Linked DNA regions of Homo sapiens. The protein of the gene in region 2 interacts with the protein of the main gene of each other region in a biochemical or structural test. Each region holds a gene or a part of one and is shown on either strand. Other genes may lie near its edges. The genes, in order: FLNB and TSHR.

Region 1 (9,094 bases), on a different chromosome or scaffold from region 2:
CAAACTGATCCCACTTAATTCCCGGCTGACTCTCAACTTGTGAGACCTTCATCACAGCCCAGAGGATTCATCCTGCCAATCATGGAAGGCCCTGACATCCCTATTTTGTCCAAGGTCAGAGGTTCAGAGTGTGGGTATCCAGCCACCACCCTAACACCTAAGACTTGCAAACCTAGTGTTGCAGGGACCCTCTGATGTGGAGAGAAAAGCTGTATTTTACTCATCTCTGAAACTGGAAGGCAAGTCAGTTAAGGCTCCAATTCAACAGCTGGGCAGACCTGGGTTTCAGACACCATTTACTAGCTAGCTGGGTCACCTCCACAAGTGGCTTCACTCCTGTTTCCCATCTTTAAATAAAGATAATAATACTAACCATGGCAAGAGTATGATCAACCAAACAGAAACAAACAACCAGGCTGTTCTCCCCTAATTTTGAACGTCCCTTCGGTGTGCAAACCATTCGGGCATGACTTTTTTTTTTTTTTTTTTTTTTGAGTCAGAGTCTCGCTCTCCCAGGCTGGAGTGCAGTTACACAAAGACCTCGGCTCACTGCAACCTCCACCTCCCGGGTTCAAGCAATTCTCCTGCCTCAGCCTCCCGAGTAGCTGGGACTACAGGTGTGCACCACCATGCCCAGCTAATTTTTGTATTTTTAGTAGAGCTAGGGTTTCACCATGTTGTCCAGGCTGGTCTCGAACTCCTGACCTCAGGTGATCCACCCACCTTGGCCTCCTAAAGTGCTGGGATTACAGGCGTGAGCCACGGCATCCAGCCCTGGCATTACTTTTGAGATAATTATTAGACAGCACCTTATTTAATTAACAGGCGCCATTTTCTAAGCAACACATGCCCAGGACAGTGTTAAGCCCTGAACTCTCTAAGTGACTTGCAGAAGCAGATCATTAGAGATAGGGCAGTAGTTGCTGTCAATCAATGATTAGCATGAAAATTCAATGGGGTGATCAACAGAACACACTTAACACCCAGTAGGTGCCCCCAAATTGAAGCTAGTGTCATTGTCAGCACAATGTAACACAACCTAAGCAGTGAATATATGAACCTTAGTCCAAGCTGGAGGTAACTTTGCCTTGAAGGATGAAGGACCATTACCCACAACAGCCTCAAGAGCTTAGGGAAGAAGCCTCCTGCTTTATCCCCACAGCAGTCCTGGCACTTGCCAGGGCTCTCTGTGGTCTCCAGAGGCTGGAAAACCTGTTTGTTGCAAGATCTCTCGGGAGAGCAATTAGGCAGCCAATGATACAAGTCATAAATGTGGTCACACCCTTTAACCCAGGAATGTCACTCTGGGGAATATGATCCAAGAAATCATTAAAAAGGAAAAAAATAGAATGCAAGTTGTGGTAGGAACAGGAAGAAGCTGCCAACAGCCCACAGGCCCAGCACAGAGGAAGGGAAGCTAACTAACCCTGGAACGTCGGGACAATGGGAGTAGCTAGGGCCTGAGTGGATTCGAAAATAAAAGGAGGACCGGGCTGGGCGCGGTGGCTCAGGGCTGTAACCCCCGCACTTGGGAGGCCGAGGCGGGCATATCATGAGGTCAAGAGTTCGAGACCAGCCTGGCCAACATGGTGAAACCCCATCTCTACTAAGAATACAAAAATTAGCCGGGCGTGGTGGCATGTGCCTGTAATTCTAGCTACTCAGGAGGCTGAGGCAGAAGAATCGCTTGAACCCGGGAGGTGGAGGTTGCAGTGAGCAGAGATGGCACCATTGTACTCCAGCCTGGAGACAGAGCAAGGCTCCATCTCCAGGCGGGGCGGTGGTGGGGAGGGGGAGCAGGGAATCAGGAGAACCATGTAAAAAAATGTAGACAAAATCTAGAATGAGACCCACAGCCCCGGGCACTGATGAGAGACAGTGCTGGAAGTAGCTGCTGCCTCTGTAAACAGTGGGTAGATCAGGCAGTCTGTGATTTGCTAGTGCTGCGGTTTGGTTTGGTTTTGTTGTTGTTTTAGAGATTTCATGTCGTATTTGGATACTTCTGGTTTACTTTAAGTTTCTTTATTCAGTTAATTAAATAAATACACATTTTTAAAACAAAGAACAGATCCAAATTGAGCCCAGCTGGGCCTTGGGATTCTTCAGAGGGGAGGCTGGTTTCTGAATGGTAAAGAATTCCAGGAGATTCTGAGGTTCTCCCTCCCCAGTACAGGAGATGGACCCCAGAAAGAAGACAACAGCGTGCCATGCAGATTCTTCTGCAGGGAAGCCACCCTTGGGGAGGGGGAGGGCTGCTGGAGATCAGCTGGGTGGTGCGGCTGCCATCTGGGCCCAGGAAGCAGGAAGCAGCCTTACCTGCCAGGACAGGTGTGGGGGAAGGGAAGGGTGAGGCCCTAAGGCCCAGGGGAGGCTCAGCCTAGAGGGAATCCCTTTTCCACTGGAGAAAGTCCTGGCAGCCACACCCATCTCCCTTTCTTCCTGTCACTAGGGTCACTATAGTGACCTGGTTTCCTCAGGAAGAGACCCAAATCACAGGCCAGGGCCAGTCCCTGGTTCTCCTTAGGAAGAGATCCAGACCCAGAACCCTCCTCTGCCCCAACCCACACCCACCCACCCACATACACACACACACATACACACACCCATACACACGTGTAGGTGGATACACATTCTCTGCATACATTCCGTGTACATGCAAACTCTTTGCATATGCACATGCTATACACACATGCTATGTGTGTACACACGTTCTCTGCACAAACGCCCACATGCACACACACATCACAGCCCCTACCATCACAGCCCACACTATCAGTAGCCTTGTGGCCCTCTGGGAAGCCTCCAACTATCTCAGACCACAAGGGAGACTTCATCCTTATTCTTCCTCCCCAGACCAGAAGGCCCAGTCCAGCAAGAGACACCAATTCCCTCCCTCCTTTCAGGAAGACCCTGGTGTAGGTTTGGGAGAGGAGAGGAAAACAAAGCCTCCTTCTAACTGTTGCCCACTTCCTTCAGTTCTCAGCTGGGCCCTACTTGCTGACCTTGGACAGGTCAATTAACCCTCCGGACCCCCTTATCTGTAAAATGGGTCTAGCCTCACCCCAGATGGCAGGATGCGTAGGGACGGAGATAACTTAGAAGGCTGACGGTACACAGTGGACGCTAGTTGGGCTCCCTACAAGACAGCAATTACTGTTACCACCACCATCTCTAAATTATAACTTCGGCAGCAAGGAGTGGGTTCAACCTGCGGCGCGCGGCCAGAGCTGAGCTGGGAGCAGAGAGAGCGAGGACACACACCCGCGCCTACCCTTGCAACCTCGGGGCCCACACCCATTCCAGCGACGGCAGGGGAAGGTACCAGGTCTCTGTCTCCACCTGGGCAGGGAGGCCCCAGGCGCAGAGAACGGTTCCTCCTCAGGTCTCACGGCCCGGCCTCCGAGCCAACGCCCATTCAGCTGCCTCTGAGAGCACCAACCTGGGCGCAGCAGGGAGAGCACTCCGCGGAGCATCTGACCCTAGGGCCCGCCCCCGGGGACAGCGAACGAGGGTTTCTAGTCCCCTAGCTCCCATAGGGGCGCCCCAGGTGTAGAGAAATGCAACAACTCCACCTCTCCTCCTGTGACCCCAGCCCAAACCCTCAACCCTTAGCCAGCCAAAGGTGCACTGCTGGGGCGGATGGCGGGGAGCGATCACAACAGGTCCCATCCCAGGGGAAGACACCGGGGAGGGGGTCTAGGCCCCCTATAACCCACCCCTGGGGACGACTCCCCCTTATCTCCGAGGTGGGGGCGCGCTGCGGGAAATCCTCGCCCTCCGCAGGGGTGCACGCGCGGGGGCGGGTCGGCACCACAGTGGGCGCCTGGGCCCGGCCAGAGAACTCACCGATGGACACGAGCTTGATGCTCTCACGGTCCAGGAACTCGAGCGCCACGGACACATTCTCGAGCTGCATCTGGCGAAAGGTGGGCCGCTGATGGTACTTGCGGTACATGCGCTTCTGGCTGAGCACCTCGAGCAGCGCGATGAGCCGCAGCCCGTCGCTCAGGTCGGTCTGCAGGTTGCCGATGCGTTTGTTCACGCACTTGAGGTGCTCGTTGCACCAGCGTGTGAACGTGTTCTGCTGGATCTTCTTCCAAGGCGCGTCCTCAGCTAGATCCTTCTCGGTTACCGGCATCCTGGTGGCGGGGAGAGCGCAATGCGCAACGAGCTGCCGGGGACTGGTGTTTGGAGGCCCAAGGGCCGAAGGAGCGAGAACCGAAGCGGAGCGGGAGCGGGGTTCGAACTTGCTGCTACCGGAGCCACGGCCGGTGCTGCTCTGCGGCCGCCCGCCCCTGGCCGCGCGAGGCGCCTGGCCCCGCGCCTGCGCGCTGAGCCGCCCCGCCCCCAAGCCCCGCCCCGTCCCGACCCTCCCGCGGGAGTTCCTGGGCCACGCTCGCCTCCTGCCGCCTGCCGCAGGCACTGCGCCCCACTGCGTCCTGGGACCCGCGCTCGAAGCCCACCACCCCAGCAGGATGTAGGGCTGCCTGAATCACCCGGTCAGCCCCGGGGTGGGGGGACCCGCGGGGGCTGGGAGCCGGACAGAATGGGTCGGGCCTCAGTGGGACTTGCGGGAGGGGCGCGCGGGGCGGAGGTCTTCATCCACATATAGATTGAATAAAATTCAGTAAGGGCTTTTATTGAGCTCCGCCTGTGTACCAGCCATTCTTCTCAGAGCCTGCTAACCAGTAGTAAATCAGACAAACGTATTGCACAACCTCAAGGAGTTCACACAGCCTAATGGAAGAGAAAAGTGTAATTCCACCATAACCAACAGCCCAGTAGTGGTGGTAAAAATGAACAATAAGGCTTGTTGCATGTCTTAGTTTCCAGTTACTGCTGTAACAAGTTACCAAAACTTAGTGTCTTTGAAAACACACACCCACAAATGTATTATCCTTCAGTTCTGTAGGTTCGATGGCCCACACAGGTCTTGCTGAGCTAAAAACAAAGTGTTGGCAGGATGCATTCCCTTCTGGAGGCTGTAGGGAAGAATCTGTTTCCTTGTGTTTTCTAACTTCCAGAAGCTGCCTGCGCGCCTGACTCCTGCCCCTTTTCTCTGTGAAAGCCTGCAATGGGCTGGGCACAATGGCTCACACCTGTAATCCCAGCACTTTGGGAGGCCAAGGTGGGTGGATCACCTGAGGTCAGGAGTTCGAGACCAGCCTGGCCAACATGGTAAAACCCCATCTCTACTTAAAATACAAAAATTAGCCAGGTGTGGTGGCGCGTACCTGTAATCCCAGCTACTGGGAAGGCTGAGATAGGAGAATCGCTTGAACCTGGGAGGCAGAGGTTACAGTGAGCTGAGATGGTGCCATTGCACTCCAGCCTGGGCGACAGAGCAAAACTCCGTCTCAAAAAAAAAAAAAAAAAAAAAAAAAACAGAAAAGCAAGCCTGCAATGTCAGGTGGAGTCTCTCAGACCTCAGACAGTCCTCTCTCCATAGGCACATCTTCCTTTTTTTTTTTTTTCCTGCGATGGAGTCTTACTCCGTTGCCCAGGCTAGAGTCCAGTGGTGCAATCTCGGCTCACTGCAACCTCCTCCTCCTGGGTTCAAGCAATTCTCTTGCCTCAACCTCCTGAGTGGCTGGGATTACAGGCACCCGCCACCACGCTCCGCTAATTTTTGTATTTTTAATAGAGACGGGCTTTCACCATGTTGGCCAGGCTGGTCTTGAACTCCTGACCTCAAGCGATCCACCAGCCTCTGCCTCCCAAAGTGATGGGATTACAGGCATGAGCCACCTTGCCCAGCCTTTTTTTTGTCTCACTCCGTCTCCCAAACTGGAGTGCTATGACTCAATCTCGGCTCCCTGCAGCTTCAACCTCCCCACACCTGGCCCTTTTAAGGACTCTTAAGATGACATTGGGCCAGCTGGTTAGTCCAACATGATCTCCCTATTTTAAAATCAGCCGATTAAGAACCCTAATCCTGTTTGCAACCTTAATTCCCCTTTGCCATTTAAGGGAATGTTCACAGGTCCTGAGAGTTAGGATGTGAACGTCTTTGGGGGCTATTACTCTGCCTACCACAGCATACATTGAGCACTTACTCTGTACTCATCCAGGTTCTGTGCTAGGTTCTGAGATATGGCAGAGTCTCAGGCCAGCCCTCTGTTGATAAAAGCCTGAATAATTACAACAGCAAGCATTGAATGAACACCTGCTGTTCCTCTGTGCCAAGCACAGTGCAAAGCAATTTCTTTCAAGTCGGGTGCAGTGGCTCACACCTGTAATCCCAGCACCTTGGGAGGCCAAGGTGGGCAGATCACCTGAGGTCAGGAGTTCGAGACCAGCCTGACCAACATGAAAAAACCCTAGCTCTACTAAAAATACAAAAAATTAGCTGGGCGTGGTGGCGCATGCCTGTAATCCCAGCTACTTGGGAGGCTGAGGCAGGAGAATCGCTTGAACCCAGGAGGCAGAGGTTGTGGTGAGCCAAGATTGCACTCCAGCCTGGGCAATAACAGTGAAACTCTGTCTCAAAAAAAAAAAAAGAAGAAATAACCGAGTGGTTGAGCGGCTTGCCCAGGCCACACAGCACAGTTAGAACCATAATGCAAGTCTGTAAGAGAGGCACAGGGTGCCCTGATACCAGAGAAGGGGCTCCTAACCCGGTTTGGGAGAGGAGTTCAGAGCAGGCAAGCTTCTGAGGAAGAGAGGTTGACCAGGACAGAGGGCAAGGGCTTGCAACTTTGAGGGTTGCTCAAAAGAGGCCAGCCAGTTTATGGGTAGAACCATTCTGTAACAGGTTATTTGCATACAATCAATGCCAGAGTGCTTTGTTCAGACAGATGAACTGACTCACTGGAAATGGTCACAACAGCCTGGGGGAGAGAATATATTACCCGGCCCTGGCTCACAATAGGGACTCAGTAACTACACTCATGTGTTGCTTAACAACAGGAATGCTAGAGGATTTTGTCATGATAGGAACACCAGAGAGTGTGTTCACACAGACCTAGATGGTACAGGCGACCACACATCCAGGTTAGAGGGGATCACCTGTTGCCCCTGGGCTACAAACCTGTACAGCAAGTTACTATATTGATACTGTAGGCAATTGTTACAATAAGTATTTGTGAATCTAAACATTAAAAGGGTATAATAAAAATACGATATAAAAGATAAAATTGGGCGGGGCGTGGTGGCTCACACCTGTAATCCCAGCTCTTTGGGAGGCCAAGGCGGGTGGATCACTTGAGATCAGGAGTTCGAGACCAGCCTGACCAACATGGCAAAACTCGGTCTCTACTAAAAATACAAAAATTAGCCAGGCATGGTGGCAGGCGCCTGTAATCCCAGCTACTCGGGAGGCTTGGGTAGGAGAATTGCTTGAACCCAGGAGGCAGAGGTTACAGTGAGCCAAGATCGCACCACTGCGCTCCAGCCTGGAAGACAGAGAGAGACTCCATCTCAAAAATTAACTAACTAAATAAATAAATAAAAAGATAAAAATAGTCTACCTGTATGGGCACTTGCCATGAATGGAGCTTGCAGCACTGGAATTTGCTCTGGGTGAGTCAGTGAGTGAGTGGTACGTGACTGTGAAGGCCTAGGACATTACTGTGCACTACTGTAGACTTTATAAACACTGTACACTGAGGCTATACTAAGTTTATTTTTTTAATCTTTTTCTTCTGCAATAAGAAATTAACCTTAGAGGCCGGGCACGGTGGCTCACCCCTGTAATCCCAGCACTTTAGGAGGCTGAGGCGGGTGGATCACGAGGTCAAGAGATCAAGACCATCCTGGCCAACGTGGTGAAACCCTGTCTCTACTGAAAATACAAAAACTAGCTGGGTGGGGTGGCACGCACCTGTAGTCCCAGCTACTCGGAAGGCTGAGGCAGGAGAGTTGCTTGAATCCGGGAGGTGGAGGTTACAGTGAGCCGAGATCGCGCCACTGCACTCCAACCTGCCAATAGAGTGAGACTCCGTCTCAAAAAAAAAAAAAAAAGAAAAAAGAAAAATAAAAAAGAAATTAACCTTAGCTTACTGTAATTTTTTAATTTTATATATTTTTTAATTCTTTGACTTTTTGGCTTTTGTAATAACAGCTTAAAACACAAACACATTATAAGCTGTACAAAAATTCTTTCTTTCTTTAAATCCTTATTCTGTAAGCTTTTTTCTGTATTTAAAACTTTTTATTGGCCAGGCACGGTGGGTTACGCCTCTAATCCCAGCACTTTGGGAGGCTGAGGTAGGCGGATCACCTGAGGTCAGGAGTTCGAGACCAGCCTGGCCAACACGGTGGAACCCCATCTCTACAAAAATACAAAAAAAATTAGTGGGGCATGATGGCGAGTGCCTGTAATCTCAGCTACTTGGGAGGCTGAGGCGGGAGAATGGTTTGAACCCAGGAGGCAGAGGTTGCAGTGAGCTAAGATGGTGCCGTTGCACTCCAGCCTGGGTGACAGAGCAAGACTCTGTCTAAAAAAAAAAAAAAAATATATATATATATATATATATATATACACACACACACATACATACATATATAAAACATACAATTATGTACAGTATATAATATTTGATAATAAACAAGTATGTTGGCTGGGCACAGTGGCTCACGCTTGTAATCCCAGCACTTTGGGAGGTCGAGGTGCACAGATCACCTGAGGCCAGGAGTTCGAGATCAGCCTGGTCCAACACGGTGAAATCCCATCTCTACTAAAAATTTTTAAAATTTTATTATCGACCTCCCTGGGCTCAGGTTATCTTCCCACTTCAGCCTCCTGAGTAGCTGGGACTATAGGGGCGCACCACCATGCCCAGCTAATTTTTGTATTTTTTGTAGAGACAGGGTTTCGCCATGTTGCCCAGGCTGGTCTAAAATTCCTGGGCTCAAGCAATCCTCCTGCCTCAGCCTCCCAAAGTGCTGGGATTACAGGCGTGAGCCACCACACCCAGGCAATAAAAAGTGTTTGTTTGTTTGTTTGTTTGTTTGTTTTATTTTTTTGAGATGGAGTTTCACTCTTGTTGCCCAGGCTGGAGTGCAGTGGTGCGATCTCAGCTCACTGCAACTTGTGGAGGTGGCCCTCCACAAGTGTGAGCCACCGCCCCCGGCCTGTGCTATATTTTTACTG
Region 2 (9,059 bases):
TATCTTGTTTTAAGCCATCAAGTTTGTGGTACTTTGTTACAGCAGCCCTAGGAAACTAAGATAGATATCAAGGCAATTATTGTATTTTAGATGTTCAAAAAGTGTTATATAAAGAGACATGGAAAATATGAAAAAAGCCCCAAGTTGAACTTCTGGAGATGGAAATCCATTTTATGAGATAAAAAAGACGTTGGATGGGATTAGTGGCCAATTAAATATTACGGGAGGACAAAAAAGAATACTGAATTTGAAGACATAGCAAAAGAAACAATCCATAATCAAAGACAAAAAGAAAAATAATTTTTTACTGAGAAAAGCATCAATATTCTCTTTGTGAGACAATTTCAATTAGCCTAATAAGTGCAATAATTGGAATGCTCAAGGGAGAGGAAAGTGATAAGGGGGAAAATCATAGATGCAGAAATGGAGAAACAATGGCTAAAAATTTTCCAAGTCTGATGAAAACCATAAACACACAAATCCAAGAATCTCAAAATACCCCAAGCACAGGAAACTTGAAGAAAAGTACATCAAGGCACATTACAGTGAAATTGCTCTCAACAAGTGACAAAATCTGAAAAGCATCCCGAGTAAGAAAAAAAAAAAAAAAAAAGCAGATTATAAAGGAGCAAAGAAAACTTTGACATAAGATTTGTCCTTGTAAACAATGCAAGCAACAAGAAAATGAAGCAATGTTTTTAAAGTACTGAAAGTTAAAAATAATGTCAATCTATGATTCTATACCTAGTGATGATATCCTTTTTTAAAAAGAAGACAAAAGTAATACTTTTTCAGACACAGAAAAGCTGGAATAATTTATAACCAGCAGATATGTATGACAAAAAAATTAATGAATGTCATTCAAGCAAAAGGAAAGTGACAGCAGTGAAAAATATGGATCAATACTAAGGAATGAGAAAGACCAGAAGGGGTAACTGTCTTATTATTTGAATCCCTTTAAAAGATAATAACACTGTATTATGGGATTTATAACCTATGTATGAGTAAAATGTATGGCGATGGAAGCATAAAGGTTAGGCAGGAGAGGAGAAATGGAGTATAAACAAGCATTCAACAAGTACAGTGTTGAAGGGTTCTTTTAAACCAAGTATAAATTGGTATAATATCAACTGAATGTGGACTATGATAACTTAAACGTACATGCTATAAACCTTAAAGCAATGAGTATAATAACCAGAGTTATAGCTAAGATTCAGCAAAGAAGATAAAACGGAATCATAAAAATTCCTTAATGACTCCAAACATATGTTTAAAATAAAAGGAGAATTGGATCAAATAACAATGGAGAAATAGAAAACTAATAGCAAGATTATTCACTTAAATGTAATGTGAATAATGACATTAAATGTAAATGATCTATACAAACCAAACAAAAGGCAGAGACGGCGAGACTGAAAGCAAGACCCAACTCTATGCTATTTATAAGAACTGCACATTTAATATAAAAACTCAAAGAGGTTAAAGTATGAAAAAATCATACCATGATAACGCTGATCAAAAGAAAGATGGATTGGCTCTACCAATAACAGAAAAGTAGATTGAAGAGCAAAGGATATCACAAGGTATAAAGAAGGCCATTTAATAACAATGAAGAGAACAAGAAAATAATAGTCCCAAACACGTATTTACCTAATAATAGAACTTCAAAATACATGAACTTTAAATTGCATGAAGAAAAACCTGATAGAAATGCAATGAGGGGGAAAAAAAACAAATCCCCAATTGTAGTAAAAAATTTCAGTACCCATGTCTCAACAATTGATATGACAAGTAGACTTTAAAGTTAGCAAAAATACAAAAGACTTAAACAATACTATCAACAACTTGACCTAATCACATTTGTAGAACACACAACTCCACAAAAGCTGATCACTTATTTTTTTTCAAGTACACACTGAACATTTTACCAAGATTGACCATATTCTGAATCATAAAATGAGTCTCACTAAATTTAAAAGTGTTCAAGTTATACAAACTATTTTCCCTGTCTATAATAGAATTAATTTACAAATTAACAACAGAATATCTGAGAATTCCTCAAATATTTGGAAACTAAACCACATGCTTCTAAAGAATCAAGGAAGAAATCTAAAAGAAAAACTAAAAAGTATTTTAAACTGAATACAAATGAAATTACAAGATATCGAAACCTGTGGGATGTCTCTAAAGTAGTATAGGGAAAGTCTACAGCACTACACACATACAATATTATAAAAGAAAAATGGCCTCAAATCAGTGACCTCAGTCTTAAGAAACCTCACCTTAAGAAGTAAAGAAGAGCCAATTAAACCCCAAGTAGGCAGAGTAATAAAATAATAAAGATCAGAGCATATATCAATGAAATAGAGCACAAAAAAAAATAGAGAATCTAAGAAACAAAAATTTGCTTCTTTGAGAATATGAATAAAATTGATAACCCTCTGGATAAAGTACTTAGGTGAAAAAAAGAAGATACAAATTATCAATATCAGGTATGACAGAGTTGACATCAGAATAGATTATATAAATATAAGAGGATAAGAGAATATTATGAACAAACTCATGCCAATAAATTCAACAATTTAGATGAAATAGACAATTCATTATATGACACAAACTGCCCAGGCTACCTCAAGAAGAATTATATGACTTGAATAGCCCTAAATCTATGTTTAGAAACTGGATTTATAGTTAAAAACCTTCCAATAAGGAAAATGCAAGGTTCCAACAGCTTCACTGGAGAATTCTACCAAATAAGTAAGAAAGGAATGATATCAGTTCTACACAAACTCCTATAGAAATTTAAAGAGGAAGGAATATTTCCCAACTTATTCTGTGATGGAAGAATTAATTGCCCTCATACCAAAATTTGACAAAGAAGTTACAGAAAAGAAAATAACAGACTACTATCCCTTGTGAACGTCTATGTAAAACTTTTAAACAGAATTTTAGCAAATCCAATGAAGGAGTATATTAAAAAGATGATAAACACGGCCGGGCACGGTGGTGCATGCCTGTAATCCCAGCACTTTGGGAGGCTGGGGCGGGCGGATCACGAGATCAGGAGTTCCAGACCAGCCTGGCCAACATGGTGAAACCCCGTCTCCACTAAAGACACAAAAAATTAACCGGGCGTGGTGGCGGGCGCCTGTAATCCCAGCTACTCTGGAGGCTGAGGCAGGAGAATCCCTTGAGCCCGGGAGGCGGAGGTTGCAGTGAGCCAAGATCGTGCCATTGCACTCCAGCCTGGGCGACAGGGCGAGACTCCGTCTCAAACAAACAAACAAAAAAAGGATAAATACATCATGATCAAGTGAGATTTATCCCTGCAATTCAAGGTGGGTTTAACATTCGAAAATCGATCACTATGATTCACCACATTAATAAACTACCATGGAACCATCACCACGAACAAGATTTAAAACAGTTTTATTACCCACAAAATTCTCTGGTGTTCATTTGTAGTCAGCCCTACCCTAGGCCTTTGCAACCGCTGATCTTTTTCCTGTCCCTATGGTTTTGCCTTTTTGAGAAAGCTATATAAATGAATCATTAATATGAATAATTACATATAAATACGTAATATTTTGAGTTTGGCTTTTTTCACTTAACATTATGCATTCAAGATTTGTTCCATAACAATACCATGGTAATTTTTAAAAAAACAACAACAAAAGCCCGGGTGCGGTGGCTCAAGCCTGTAATCCCAGCACTTTGGGAGGCCGAGGCGGGCGGATCACGAGGTCAGGAGATCGAGACCAGCCTGACTAACACAGTGAAACCCCGTCTCTACTAAAATTACGAAAAAATTAGCCGGGCGTGGTGGCGGGCGCCTGTAGTCCCAGCTACTCGGGAGGCTGAGGCAGCAGAATTGCTTGAACCTCGGAGGCAAAGGTTGCAGTGAGCCGAGATCGCGCCATTGCACTCCAGCCTGGGCGACGGAGCAAGACTCCGTTTCAAAAGAAAAAAAAAAAGAAAAGAAAATTTGTGCATGTTGTATCAGCAGTTCATTCATTTTTATTGCAGAATAGTATTCCAATGTGGAGGTATCAGAGTTTGTTTATCCATTATCTAGTCGCGAGACACTTGGTTCGTTTAGTGGTTATGAATAAAGCTTCTGTAAAATTTGGAATACACATATTTTAAATGTACGGTTTAATGAATTTTGATAAATGTATACATCCACTTAACCTCCAGCCTAATTACGATATGGAAACCCTGTGTGTTCCCTCCTGTCTTTTTCTAGTCAATCTTTCCTAACCTTTATTCTGATTCCCATAACCACAACTTTTTCCTTCCTGTCCTAGCCAAGTTCATATAAAAGGAATTATGCAGTATAGAAGGAATTGACATTCCTTTTATCCCAAGAGGAATAAGTGATTGAAGACTTTTAAGAAGGAAATAGGCACAATCTGATTTATGTTTGTAATGATCTTTTTGGCTACTGTGCGAAGAATGGTGAGTATGCCACTTAAGTATTATTTTTCTTCCCATCTTCCAGGGGGAATATGACTCAATGAAATTCTTGGGTCGACCAGAATTTCCATACTGGACCCATTATTAAGGGAACCTGGAATTATTTCTGCCATTCCCGATTCTTCCCAGCAGATGGCCCCAAAGTTCAGTTCCTGAATTGCCTCGCGGAGCCGCGGGCTGCAACGTGAGGCGGCCGCTGCCAGTCGACTCAACCACCGGAGTGGCCCCTGCAGTTGGATAGCAACGAGAATCCTCCAGGGGTGCAGGGCGACGGCTTCGGCCGCACCGCGGGCTAGCCAGGGCTGCGTGCCCGCCTCTGACCCTCAGCAGAGGTGTCTCTGGCCAGGAGGAGCTGAAGTTCTGCAGGACATTGGTCCGCCCGCGGACAGTCCACTCCGCGGGGACTTTCTCTGGATAAGGAGTGCGTGCGAGTGGCTCCCAGGCAGACAGGGTGTCTAGAAGGCTACACGCTAGGGAAGGTGGCTCCTTGGATTTAAAGAGGAGGAAAGGAGGGGGCATCTAAACTAGGCTTTGGAGAGAACTAATGGGAGGGGCGCCCGGGGTGGGGGGGCGGGCTGGAAAACAGAGGGGACAGCCAGGACTGGTGTTGGGTGTCAGGGAACAGACGGAGCGGACTGCGTGGGTCCAGCCAAGGAAAGTGAAGCAAGCAGACTTGTTTGGGTCAAGGTTGCCTAGGGAAGCGGAGCACTTAAGTGCCTCTTTTTCCCCTTCTCCAGCCTCCTCCACAGTGGTGAGGTCACAGCCCCTTGGAGCCCTCCCTCTTCCCACCCCTCCCGCTCCCGGGTCTCCTTTGGCCTGGGGTAACCCGAGGTGCAGAGCTGAGAATGAGGCGATTTCGGAGGATGGAGAAATAGCCCCGAGTCCCGTGGAAAATGAGGCCGGCGGACTTGCTGCAGCTGGTGCTGCTGCTCGACCTGCCCAGGGACCTGGGCGGAATGGGGTGTTCGTCTCCACCCTGCGAGTGCCATCAGGAGGAGGACTTCAGAGTCACCTGCAAGGATATTCAACGCATCCCCAGCTTACCGCCCAGTACGCAGACTCTGTGAGTACCCGGGAGAGATCAGGGTAGGACCCAGAGATCAAGGGCATCTGCAGAGGTGGCCCGAAGTGCACAAAAGCAGCTCAATAACAGCCCGAAGTAGTGTGTGAGTGTGTGTATGTGTGAGTGAATGTCTGTGTGTGTAGATGTGTGTGTGTGCTAAAAACTTAATCGCCCACACTTGGGAAGGTATCATTGTTGACATCCTCATTCCCAACACAGGAAAATGTTACAAAACTTTGGTGTACAATGACCGTGAGAGCTGTTCTTTCCAACAAGCTGCTATTCAGCACTTTGCCTAACCCTGGTTGAATCTGTTTTATTTGAATTAATAAGGATAATGGCATCTCAGGAACTGACCTTTTTGATCTTACCTTGGGTAATAAAAAATTGCAAAAATATGTATTTCTCCTTTTTGTTTCTCTAGATGGGAGGTTATCTTAGCAGTTCTGCTGATTCATCAAATTGTTGACAAAGGTTTAAGCAGGGGCCCTTTTTAAAATGAACTGTCTATACAGTATCTGTAAGTTACTTACTCAAATGTGAACTGCCAGTGAAATAGTACGTCCAGAACCCTGCTTTGTGATAGAGGTATAAAGAAATGAAATTTCATAAAAGTATAGTACATTTATCTGCATGTTAAATGTTACCAGATTAGAAACCTGATGTTAAATAAGATTATACACACACAACCTGTTTCTTAACAGCAATTTAAATCAGTGATCATTGAAATTGTAGACAAAACCAAGGGAATAAAGTCTGTCTTGATTAGTTAAAAAGAGAACAGAAAGAAAGGACAGTAAAACAACCTAGGCTGGTTAAATCCAGTTAAGATAAAAAAAAATGCAGGTTATTAAAGAAAATGTTGATAGATGAAAAGAAATGGGAAAGTTGCACCTCTAGATTTTCTCAAGAATTTAGCTCATGAAGACTATTTAACAGTAGATGAATATTTGAGCACAGAGATATATTTCTGTGCTCAGAGATATCCTAGTGTCTTAGCACACCTGAATTAATTAGTTCAATAACCTCCAAACAGTGTGGTAGTCATTCTCCATGCTGCCACCACAGAATAAGATGTGTAAAAGGTGTAATGGCCTCTTGATTACACCTCTACATAGGTTGCTTGTCACCTCTAGAATAAAATTCTTTTGTGCAGCCTACCAGATCTTTCAAGACCTAGTCAAGTCTTTCCAACCTCATTGCTCCTCATTTCTCTAACTTCCCCCTCCTGCTGAGAACTTCTGGCACTTCCCCAAAGGTCCCTGCTGTTACAGCTGCCCTTGCCTTTCTTCCCACTTTCTGGCCCCTCTGCCTGAAGCACATTTCACCCATTTCTTCACCCAGCTAATGCCTACTCCCAGATCCAGATCCTGGATCAACCCTGCAGGAAGCTTCTCCTGACCCATGACCTTCAGGCTGGGTAAGCTATACCCCCCTTCCCAACAGCGTTCTCTGCATGAACCTAACCCTAGCCCTTAGACATTGTCTACTTTCTTGTAACTTGTTATTTATTTGCATGCCCACTCAAGCAGGACACAAGCTTCTCTAACATAGGGAACTGCCATTCAACCCCGAATTCCTGAAACCCTGGAACTACTTAGACACTCAGAAAAAACAAAAAAAAAAAAACTTAAGTGAATAAATAAACAAATGAATATGCCAGGTCTCTGAATGTCCACTCTATGTTGGGGAGAAAGAAATCCAAAGACATCACTTCTTCAGAGACTTCTTTAACAGTGGCAGAAATTCAAGTCATTGAAGAGAGATGTGGCTCTGACAGTGAAAAGGAACTCGTAGACATCCTGTTTAAAATTCCACCAAAAGTTGAGAAAGAAAGGGTAATGGAGAATGAGCAATGGAACAGGAGTCAGGAAACCAGCATTCTCTTTAGCCCTTCTTTACTAACCATGAAATTGTGTAAGATGACTGATTTGGAAGGAGCCAAATTTCCTTCTGGGTAAAAGAGAATGTTCAACTAGGTGCTTTCTAGGTGATGACATGATGCTGATGAGAATAGTCTGAGGGAAGGCACTGAATCACAAGAAAAAGACATAAAGACAGTGGCAAGGAGGATCTGCCCTTGAGAATAATGGAGAGGGAGGTAGTATGTCCTGAAGAATAAAGTTATTCTGAGATCGAAAAGAGAAACCTGATAAAAAGTGTGGGTAAAACAAAATGGTAGTCTCCTTTGAACAATGGCTACTACCATCTGCAACAGTAGAAAAATGATTTTTAAATCTTTTGGGGGCGGTAGAACTCTTTGTTGAAGAAAAGCATATGAGAGAAGTAAAACATGTAAAGCTAACAATTATATTGTGTTTACTTACGGGGGCGGGGGGTCCTGTTCTCAGCGCTTTGCATGAACTCACCCAGTGAATCCTCACCAAATCCAATTAAGTAGGTGATGTTATTATGCTCATTTTATAGATGAGGACCTTGAGGCACAAAAATAAAATGAAGTAATTTGCTCAATGTTGCACAGCTTGTAAGTGGTAAAGTCAGGATTTGAATATCATATCATCAACTATGGAGCCTGCACCCTTAAGCCACCACTCTCAGATGAGAAGTGTGTCTCACCACACCAGTGTTCCCCTGATGGTCATAGGCTTTGGAGAAAAAAGTCTGAAAACAAGTCACATTCAGTAAACCGACTGATAACCTCGGGGGCTATTCATCAGATGCAAGAACTCAGAAAGCAGGAGGTTAGCAGGGAAAGGAAAGAAGAAGGAAGGAAGAAAGAGAGAGTGGAAGAGAGGCAAGGAGGACAAGAAAGACTAAGTTAGTCTTTCTTGACAAGAAAATCTAGATCTTTTTTTACATCTTTCTAGACAAGAAAGATCTAAGTTATGGAAGGTATTCCTTGCTGAAATAAACCAAGTTTTTGTCATTAAAAAGCCGTTCTGGGTGGTGACCTCTTTTTGGAATCTACTTAAATTATACAGGATCTACTACTGAGGCATGTTCTCTCACAAGTTTTGTATTATTCAGAGTGTACCTCTTTTTAAAGTTTTTGAAGAGCTTACACTGGTTTAAAATGTAAGGTATTTTGTTCCTGTAGAGTTATTTGCATTACTTCTGCAACCTTCATTAAGATGCTGTATAACCACTTCTTAGACATTTTACAAATTATGATGGTGCCGAGAACAACTCTTTCTAAACTTTATCTTCTACTCATAGATTATTGTTCTGAAAGGTAAACAGCTCTCTTGCCCTACTACCCATATCCCAGCCCCGTGGTCTTATGGATGCAGGGGAGAGAGTTACGGACTGTGGCCCTCACTGAAGAAGTGATGCTGTATCTTTTCCTCACTCCTCCCCTCCAGAAGGGTATGATGCTTTACCTGAGTGGAAGGTGAGGGAGAGCTGGGATCCCTACTTCCCCCACTGCCAGTGGAACATTCTAGAATCTTTGATGTGTAGGTAGTTTGAAAAAAATCACTCTCTTCCATTGAAAATTACTGATTTAAGGAAACTTAAATGAAGCAAGAGAATAAAATTAAAAATTTAAATGTTGGCATAT

What was found.
Region 1: the proteins of TSHR (region 2) and FLNB interact in a test that uses a peptide from one of them, tested with the Homo sapiens proteins (one study listed by BioGRID).

Annotation. Positions count from the first base shown.
Region 1 is NC_000003.12:58,003,609-58,012,702, reverse strand, and holds the start of FLNB (filamin-B), read right to left. Parts: upstream 4,282-9,094; 5' UTR 4,139-4,281; coding exon 3,847-4,138; intron 1-3,846. UniProt on the Homo sapiens protein: Connects cell membrane constituents to the actin cytoskeleton. May promote orthogonal branching of actin filaments and links actin filaments to membrane glycoproteins. Anchors various transmembrane proteins to the actin cytoskeleton.
Region 2 is NC_000014.9:80,950,312-80,959,370, forward strand, and holds the start of TSHR (thyrotropin receptor isoform 1 precursor), read left to right. Parts: upstream 1-5,309; 5' UTR 5,310-5,369; coding exon 5,370-5,539; intron 5,540-7,866; exon of another isoform or gene 7,867-7,974; intron 7,975-9,059. UniProt on the Homo sapiens protein: Receptor for the thyroid-stimulating hormone (TSH) or thyrotropin. Also acts as a receptor for the heterodimeric glycoprotein hormone (GPHA2:GPHB5) or thyrostimulin. The activity of this receptor is mediated by G proteins which activate adenylate cyclase.